2 linked regions of the Homo sapiens genome follow. The gene in region 2 interacts genetically with the main gene of each other region. Each region holds a gene or a part of one and is shown on either strand. Other genes may lie near its edges. The genes, in order: MAP2K7 and ITGB7.

What was found.
Region 1: changes in ITGB7 (region 2) and MAP2K7 together harm fitness more than expected from each alone (negative genetic interaction), as found in Homo sapiens cells (one large-scale study listed by BioGRID).

What each region holds. Positions count from the first base shown.
Region 1 is NC_000019.10:7,906,860-7,910,666, reverse strand, and holds part of MAP2K7 (dual specificity mitogen-activated protein kinase kinase 7), read right to left. Parts: intron 913-3,807; coding exon 771-912; intron 605-770; coding exon 538-604; intron 408-537; coding exon 294-407; intron 215-293; coding exon 95-214; intron 1-94. UniProt on the Homo sapiens protein: Dual specificity protein kinase which acts as an essential component of the MAP kinase signal transduction pathway. Essential component of the stress-activated protein kinase/c-Jun N-terminal kinase (SAP/JNK) signaling pathway.
Region 2 is NC_000012.12:53,193,858-53,197,378, forward strand, and holds part of ITGB7 (integrin beta-7 isoform a precursor), read right to left. Parts: intron 2,964-3,521; coding exon 2,722-2,963; intron 2,343-2,721; coding exon 2,184-2,342; intron 1,865-2,183; coding exon 1,769-1,864; intron 1,607-1,768; coding exon 1,517-1,606; intron 1,286-1,516; exon of another isoform or gene 488-1,285; coding exon 341-487; exon of another isoform or gene 45-340; coding exon 1-44. UniProt on the Homo sapiens protein: Integrin ITGA4/ITGB7 (alpha-4/beta-7) (Peyer patches-specific homing receptor LPAM-1) is an adhesion molecule that mediates lymphocyte migration and homing to gut-associated lymphoid tissue (GALT).

The sequences.
Region 1 (3,807 bases), on a different chromosome or scaffold from region 2:
GTGTCTTCCGGCCCACCCCCCAGAGGCTCTGCTCCCTAGGAAGGGGCAGGGGTGAGGGAGGAGGAGACGCTGCAGGGCGCGGCCAGGTACTCACGTTGGTGATGAACGTCCCAAAGCACTGCACGATGTAGGGGCAGTCGTGGCTCTTCAGCACCACATCCAGGTCCATGAGGATGCGCTTGTTCTCCTCCTTGTTCCCGGAGCGCCGCATTTGCTGCACAGGCAGGGACAGGAGGGAGCCTCAGCACCGGCCTGGGGTGTGGGGCGCAGCCGGGGTAGCCGCCAAGGCTCACCTTAACGGCAATGACGTGGCCGGTCTTCCGGAAGCGCATCTTCCACACCTGGCCGCAGGTGCCGCTGCCCATCTCGCCCAAGTTCTCCAGGTCGTTGATTTCTGCCTGGTAGCGCTGGGAGGAGAGGGAGGGTTGGAGGGTCCCTGGGGCCTCTGCCACCGCCCCCTGCCCCCCACTGGCGCTCCCAGGATGGGTCCAGCCTGGCTGGGCCTCCTCCCTCTCCCCGCCACAGTGAAGGTGGTACCTGGCCCCCGATGGTCAGGTAGCCCGTCTGCTTCATGATCTCCTGCAGCTTCTGGTCAATCTCAATGCTGGGGACATGGAGCAGGTGCCGGTGGAGGTGGGTCCTGACCTTAGGTTGGCCACCCCAGTCCCCCATACCGGGGTTCCCACCGGTTTAACCACCCTCCTCCCAGGGCTGGCACGGTGGCCCCTCAATGCTGCTTCCCACCCAACCCTGCTGGGCCCCTGGCTCACCTCTCCATGCTGCGGGGTGTGAACAGGGTTGACGGGAGCCCCAGCATGTGGCGGGGCCGGGCGGGGGGCGTGGGGTGCTGCGGGGAGCTCTCTGAGGATGGCGAGCGGCTGCCCCCATCGTTGGCCAGCGGGAGCTGCAGGGCTAGGGGGGTGAGAACCAGTGGCAGGGAGGGGGGTCAGCGCCCAGCTGGTGTCAGCTCCACATCTGGCACTCCAGGGAGGGGTCGGGACCCTCACCTTCCCCTCCTGGGTTTCCCGAGCTAGGCTGGCACAGCCCCCTGCCCTGCTGGGCTGGAGGAGCTGGGGTCTCCCTCCCACCCCAGACTGTTCTCAGGGTCCCTTGTCTCATCCCCTGACCTGGAAAGAGATGGAGGAGGCTAGCAGGGGAGAGGGAGCCCCAAGTCTACGCTGACGGAGAAACGAGATGGGGACCTGAGGTGTCCCTCGGCCAGGGGGCCTCCCTGACAGGTGTGTGCACTTCCTCCCACTTCTGCCCAGGAAGCAGGCCCAGGGCCACAGCACCCACAGGATGGATAGGCCAGGGCGGAGTGCCTGCCAGGGCTGGCCCAGGCTGTGGCTCTGCTGGTAGCACTGAAGTTGGCTCCCAGACAAGAGCGAGCAGGGCCACGCTGGGGAGGCAGCGGGCACGAGACCCAGGCTTCAGGCTGCCTTGCCCTATCTTCTGTTCCGGGGTCAGGGAGGGCCCCCCTCGGGCCAGTGGGCTGACATGAGGGCCTCCTGGCCTGGCCTGCAGAGCTGGGGCCCATGGGGGCAGGACAGGACCTCAGGGGGCCTGCATCCTCTGGGAGGAGAGCTCGGGGGCACAGCTCCTGCAGGGGCTGGCGGGACCAGGTGGGGCCAATGCTGGGCCAGGCGGGGGTTGGCTCATCCAGCAGCCTGCATGCGGGCAGCTCGGGCATGCTACAGCGGGTGGGCAGGCGGCGGGCAGGCAGCAGGCACCCTGGGGTGGGCAGGCGGCATTAGGGGTGGGAGGGCAGGAGACAGACAGACAGACAGGAACCAAGACTAGGGCCCAGGTGCCCAGAGGAGGCGCTGCAGAGACAGGCCAGAGAGGGGCCTGGGACAGGAGGGCAGCTTCCCGGAGGAGCTAGGGTCTCCCTGGCTGGGCTGGCAACAGGGTGCAGGAACAGAGGCCGGGATGCTAACGTGGCCTCCAGAGGAGCCAATCCTGACACGTCACATCCTAGAGGCCCTGACAACGGCTACACACACCTACCAAGGTGCCCCTCCCACAGGAGCTGGGGCCTGCCGCTCTCCAAAGCCCTCAGCCAACAAGCCCCTCTCCCCTCTTTTCCTCCTGCCTCGTCCACCTTTTCTCCCCACAGTTCTGCAGGCTCCTGGTGACTGGTGCCCAGGGACTAATATGAACAGACAAACCCGCTCCATGCTGGCAGCTAAACCCCGTCCCTCCCGTGTGCCCAGGACCCTGATCTCAGCCAGTAGGAGGGGCAGGAAGACGCCTCAGTCCCAATGCAGGAGGCCCAGCATTGCCCCTATCTGGTCCTGCCAGCCCCTGCAGGAGCTGTGCCCCCTAGCTCCCCTCCTGGAGGACCAGGCAGGAGCAGGGGAAGGGCTCTGGGGACCTTGGGACACAGCCAGGCCCAGCGTTCATGACTGGCCTAGAGGCCTCACCTCCCGTGCCCCTCCCGCTGTCCTGGCCACTGCCGCCTCTGCAGCACCACGTCACCTCCCACTGTTTTTTTTTTTTTTTGAGATAGGTTCTCGCTCTGTCACCCAGGCTGGAGTGCAGTGGCGTGATCTCAACTCACTGCAACATCCCCCTCCCAGGTTCAAGTGATTCTCCTGCCTCAGCCTCCTGAGTAGCTGGGATTATAGGTACACGCCACCACACCCAGCTAATTTTTGTCTTTTGAGTAGAGATGGGGTCTCGCTATGTTGGCCAGGCTTCTCCCTCTGCTTCTTCAGGTCCCTGCGCCTCTGCTCTGTCCATGGCCTGAGCCACAGCCCCAGTCCCCTTCTGGCTCCCGAGGGCCTGTGCTCCCCCCAACCCAGCCCCCAACCCCTGTGCACCTGGCATCTCTTGAGACACTGCCTAGTTCCCGCCCTCAGAGAGTATCCGAGTCCCGCTCACACCCTGCACTCAGCGGTTGACGACCACAGCCCTCGAGGAGTCCTGTGGGCCCCTTCCCTGACAGAGCCCACCAGGCCTTCCGAGGGTGGCCCCGGAGCCTGGGGAGGAGGCTGCCGGACCACAGACTGGAGCATGGGGGGATGGAAGGGAGGGTTCAGGTAGGCACTGGGGGAAGGAGGTACACAAAGGCCCTGAGAACAGAGGCCACAGAGGTGGTGATGGCCACATGGCAGCTCAGGAGGGTGGAGTGAGAGCAAGAGGGTGAGGATGAGAAAGAGAACGGATGAGAGAGAGCGAGAGGCTGGAGGGCACGTGTCTGCCGACAGGAGCCACAGGTGCACCGGCTGCCATGTCAACATGCACGCACATGCCGTGCAAGTGCACGCACGCACAACACACACCCGGGGCATGCCGTGGACCTAACACCCATGCAGCCGGGACAGAGTCCCCCTTGCCCTCGGACACACATACTCACAACCACTCACAGGGCCAGGCACCCCATCTACTCTCTCTCCCAACACAGGCGTGGGGCACAGCCTGCATGCCCCACACAGGCTGGCGCTGCGCTCAGAGCCCTGGCGGCCCTGTCTTCTCTCCCCCCCCAACTCCTTCAAGACGCTTTTTAAATTTTTTTTTTTTTTGAGACGGAGTCTTGCTCTGTTGCCCAGGCTGGAATGCAGTGGCGCGATCTCAGCTCACTGCAACCTCCACCTAATCTTTTATGTTTTTTTTTTTTTTGAGATGGAGTTTTGCTCTTGTTGCCCAGGCTGAAGTGCAATGGTGCGATCTCAGCTCACTGCAATCTCCGCCTCCCGGGTTCAAGCGGTTCTCCTGCCTCAGCCTCCCGAGTAGCTAGGATTACAGCCTCCCGAGTAGCTGGGATTACAGGTATGTGCCACCATGCCCGGCTAATTTTGTATTTTT
Region 2 (3,521 bases):
TCTGGGAGGCAGTGGGTGGCTTGGAGAGAAACCCAGAAAGTCACCTGAGAAGAGGCAGGAATCAGGCCATGGTTATACACATGCACACACACATACCCCAAACTCACCAATCATCCAGAACCTCACCCCTTAGTAAATGAAGGGATGGGGTCATGTTAACACCCAACTCCTAGAAACATGCCTGAGGAAGCCACTCAGACTGCTCCAGGAAGGATGGATGGAGGACTACCTCAGGCTCTCATGTCACTCCCTGTACCTGCCACCCATCTTTTCCTGCCTGCTTAATTTCCCACTCCCACCTCCCCCTGCCCGCCTTCTGCCTGTGCTTGCTGGCTCTCACCGTCTGGTTGATTCGGACGTGGTTGCACTGTCCTCGATCCTCAGCCTTACCCTCCCTCTTCTCAGGACCCTCACACTGGGATTCGTAAGAAATGTGGACCCCAGGAGGGAGTGAAGAGTGTTCAAGGGTCACGGTGGAAGACAGGCTCTATGGGAAGAGAGCGAGTGGATAACCACGTGAAGGCAGAAAAGGACTCCAACCCCACCTTATGTCCTCTCCAGGTGTTCCCAATTCTGCCAGCACCCTGCCCTCTGCCACCTGGGGCTCCTTCCATTCTGCCCAGTCGAGGCATTTCTGGAGGGAGGACCCGTGAGAACCTTGCATAGAACATACAGGATCCAGAGGCCTCTAATACAGCATTTCAGTGCAGCTGCCAGCAAGGGCCACTGAGGGTCACAGGCTGGCCAGGTGCTGTAAATGTACAGAGACCATGTTTGTGAAGCCCCACATCAGGACACATAACCTGGGTGCATGCCAGGTCTAAAGGGCAGATTCATTACAGAGTTTATCTTGGGAAATTTGATACTGTCTCAGATTTTCTTGCCATAGGTTTAGGAGATGCTCCCTGTTATCAAGAAGCCTACAGCCTAGTTGCAGAGGTAAGACCTAAACCACTAAGAATTTTTATGGTTCCTTCTACCTGTAAAATTCTATGGTTCTTGTGAAGAATAGCTCTGAATTATTTATAAACTTAGTGAAAGCAGGCTCCAGATCTCACATTGTTTATGTACAGACTGACTGGGGACAAATGCCAGCCCTTCTGTTTGTTATCTTTGTGACCTTGGACAAGTCACTTAGCCTCCTTGTGTGGGTTTCCTCATCTGTAAAATAGGGATGGTAACAGTTATGAAGCAAGGCTTTTGGCAGGGTTAAATGAAGTAGCAAACAGTATGTACACCTAGGATGGTGGGCGCATGAAATAAAAGCTCAGTGATTGAAACTTTCCTTTCTTGCCCAGAGCAGAGCTCCATGCTGTCTGCATGTCAGATGTTTTAAGATTTATGAATGTAAGATTGAACAGTTAATGACAGCCACATGCAGACTATAGGTAGGAGCTGTGGAATGTTAGACCAAAAAGTGACCATTTCCTCTTAGTTCTGCCACCCCACCCAAGGGCCCCTTTCCACCTTTCCCTAGTGCCCACCCTCACCATCTCCCCTTCCCCTGGCCCCTCACATTATAAGCATCCATGATGAGCTGTACCACGTTGCTGGAGTCCTCACTCAGCTCCCCAACTGCAGACTTAGGAATCAGTTTACTCAGCTCCTGAGTTTTGGGGAGTTAAGGGAAATGGTGGGTCACAGCTCTAGGAAAATGGGCTCCCGGAGGTCTGGAAGGAGGGCATATGGGGGACGGAGAATGTATCTTTGGGGGAATTGAGAAAGGTTGGGATGGGGCTGGGGGATCTGACATGTAGACAGCTCTCACCTGGTAGACAGGCAGTGCGGCACTGGTGACAGCAAAGATGGGCTGGATATTTGCTGCAGAGAGGGCCTGGGCTACCTGACCCACAGAAGGGTAGTCCTGGGACAGGGAGCAGGGACAAGGTGAGCCCCACAGGTTTCCCCCACAACATGCAAGGTGCCCTCAGCCCAGGGAATCCAGGAACCAAGGTTCCACCAGCTGGAGGAGCCCTGGAGGCTTGCTATGGAATAGGAAGGAGGTAGGGAATGGGGTGACAAAGGTGTCCTGTCTCGGCAGCTGAAAGGAGGAACTGCTGGAGAAGATGGCAGGGTGTCTACAGGGTGGTTACTGGTGAGGACTGTAAGGCTGGGAGTGGGAGTCCTGGAAGGAAAGAGGTGTGGCTGAAATGGGGAGAGGCAGGGTGACAATAGGGACTCACAAACTCTGTGCTGCGACTGTAGAGGCCATTGCTGTCCAAGTGGCAGTGCCCATCACTGGGCATGAAAATGCCGCCCAACTTCCCGTCCCCAGCTGTATGGAATGTGTCGTCTGAAGTGAACACCAGCAGCCGGGACACATTTCTCCAGCCAATCTGCTCCTGAGTTACAGTGGGGGTGGTAGGCTATGCACCTGGGCATGGCCCTTGAGCCACCCCAGCCAGCTCTGTGAGCCAAGAATGTGGCCAGCCTCACTCTGAGTCAGCTTGTCCATCCCCTTGCCTCCAGTACCTTGCTTCTCCCTGCTCTCTCCAGCCCCCTAAAGAAGGCTGCTGCTAGTGGAGGCTTACTTGTGAATTCGAAAAACATGCCTCCTCCTCAAGATATTTTACTCCAACCCACCAGGTAATTGCTAAATATACAAACTACAGCAACTATGGTATGAATGGCACCCCCTAGAACTGTGCACTACACAACCATAAGGGGCAGTCCTGTTCCCAAACAGACCTCCAGGCTCAGATCCCCGCCCCACCTCCTCACCTGGCAGAGTGCAGCCTGCAGAATGGCATCGAAGCCACCTTCAGGCGAGTCCAGATTGCCGGACACACTCTGGCGCCCCACCTCCCGCTCGAAGGCTTGTGCGTCCCCCGTCAGGGACAGCACATGGTGAAAGCTGAATGGTGACTGGCAGCGCTCCAGCCGGGTGGGGCAGGGGTGGCGCAGTTTGGAGGGTACTGTGCTCACAAAGGGCAGCACCGTTTTGTCCACAAAGGAACCAAAACCTGGGAGAGGAGAGGAATGAAGGTTGTGCCAGAAGTCGCAGGGCAGCAACAGAGGACCCATGAGAGCGCTCTATGGGAAGTGGGGTGGGGAGGACGGTGATGGGAGAGGGTGCACCTAGGGGGCAGGGACCTGGTAACTGGCAAGCAAAGCAGTGAGACCACTGGCTCAGGGAAGTGGCAGGTAGAAGACATTAAGAGGAGGACACAACTTCCTGGGCAAATGGGAACTTCCAGAAGGCGGAAGAAGGCCCGGGTATAGGATATGGTAGCAGCATGAGGCAAAGGAAGGAAATTTGAATAGAGGAGAGTTGGCACAGAATGTGGAGCCAGGGACAGTGGCATCTAGGTCTTGTCCAGGGAGACTTGCATCAGGGCAGGTTCCAGGTTGGTAGGCCCAGGGCAGCTGTCCAGGCCCAGAGAGTGCCTGAGCACAGTCTCTCCAGACGCTGGGTCTCAGGCCTGTAAAACGGATAGTCTCTTGAGTCCTCTCCAGCTCTGACCTAGAAGATGGGTGTCTAGGGAGAGATGCAGGAACGAACCTGTGGCCTGGCTAGGCCT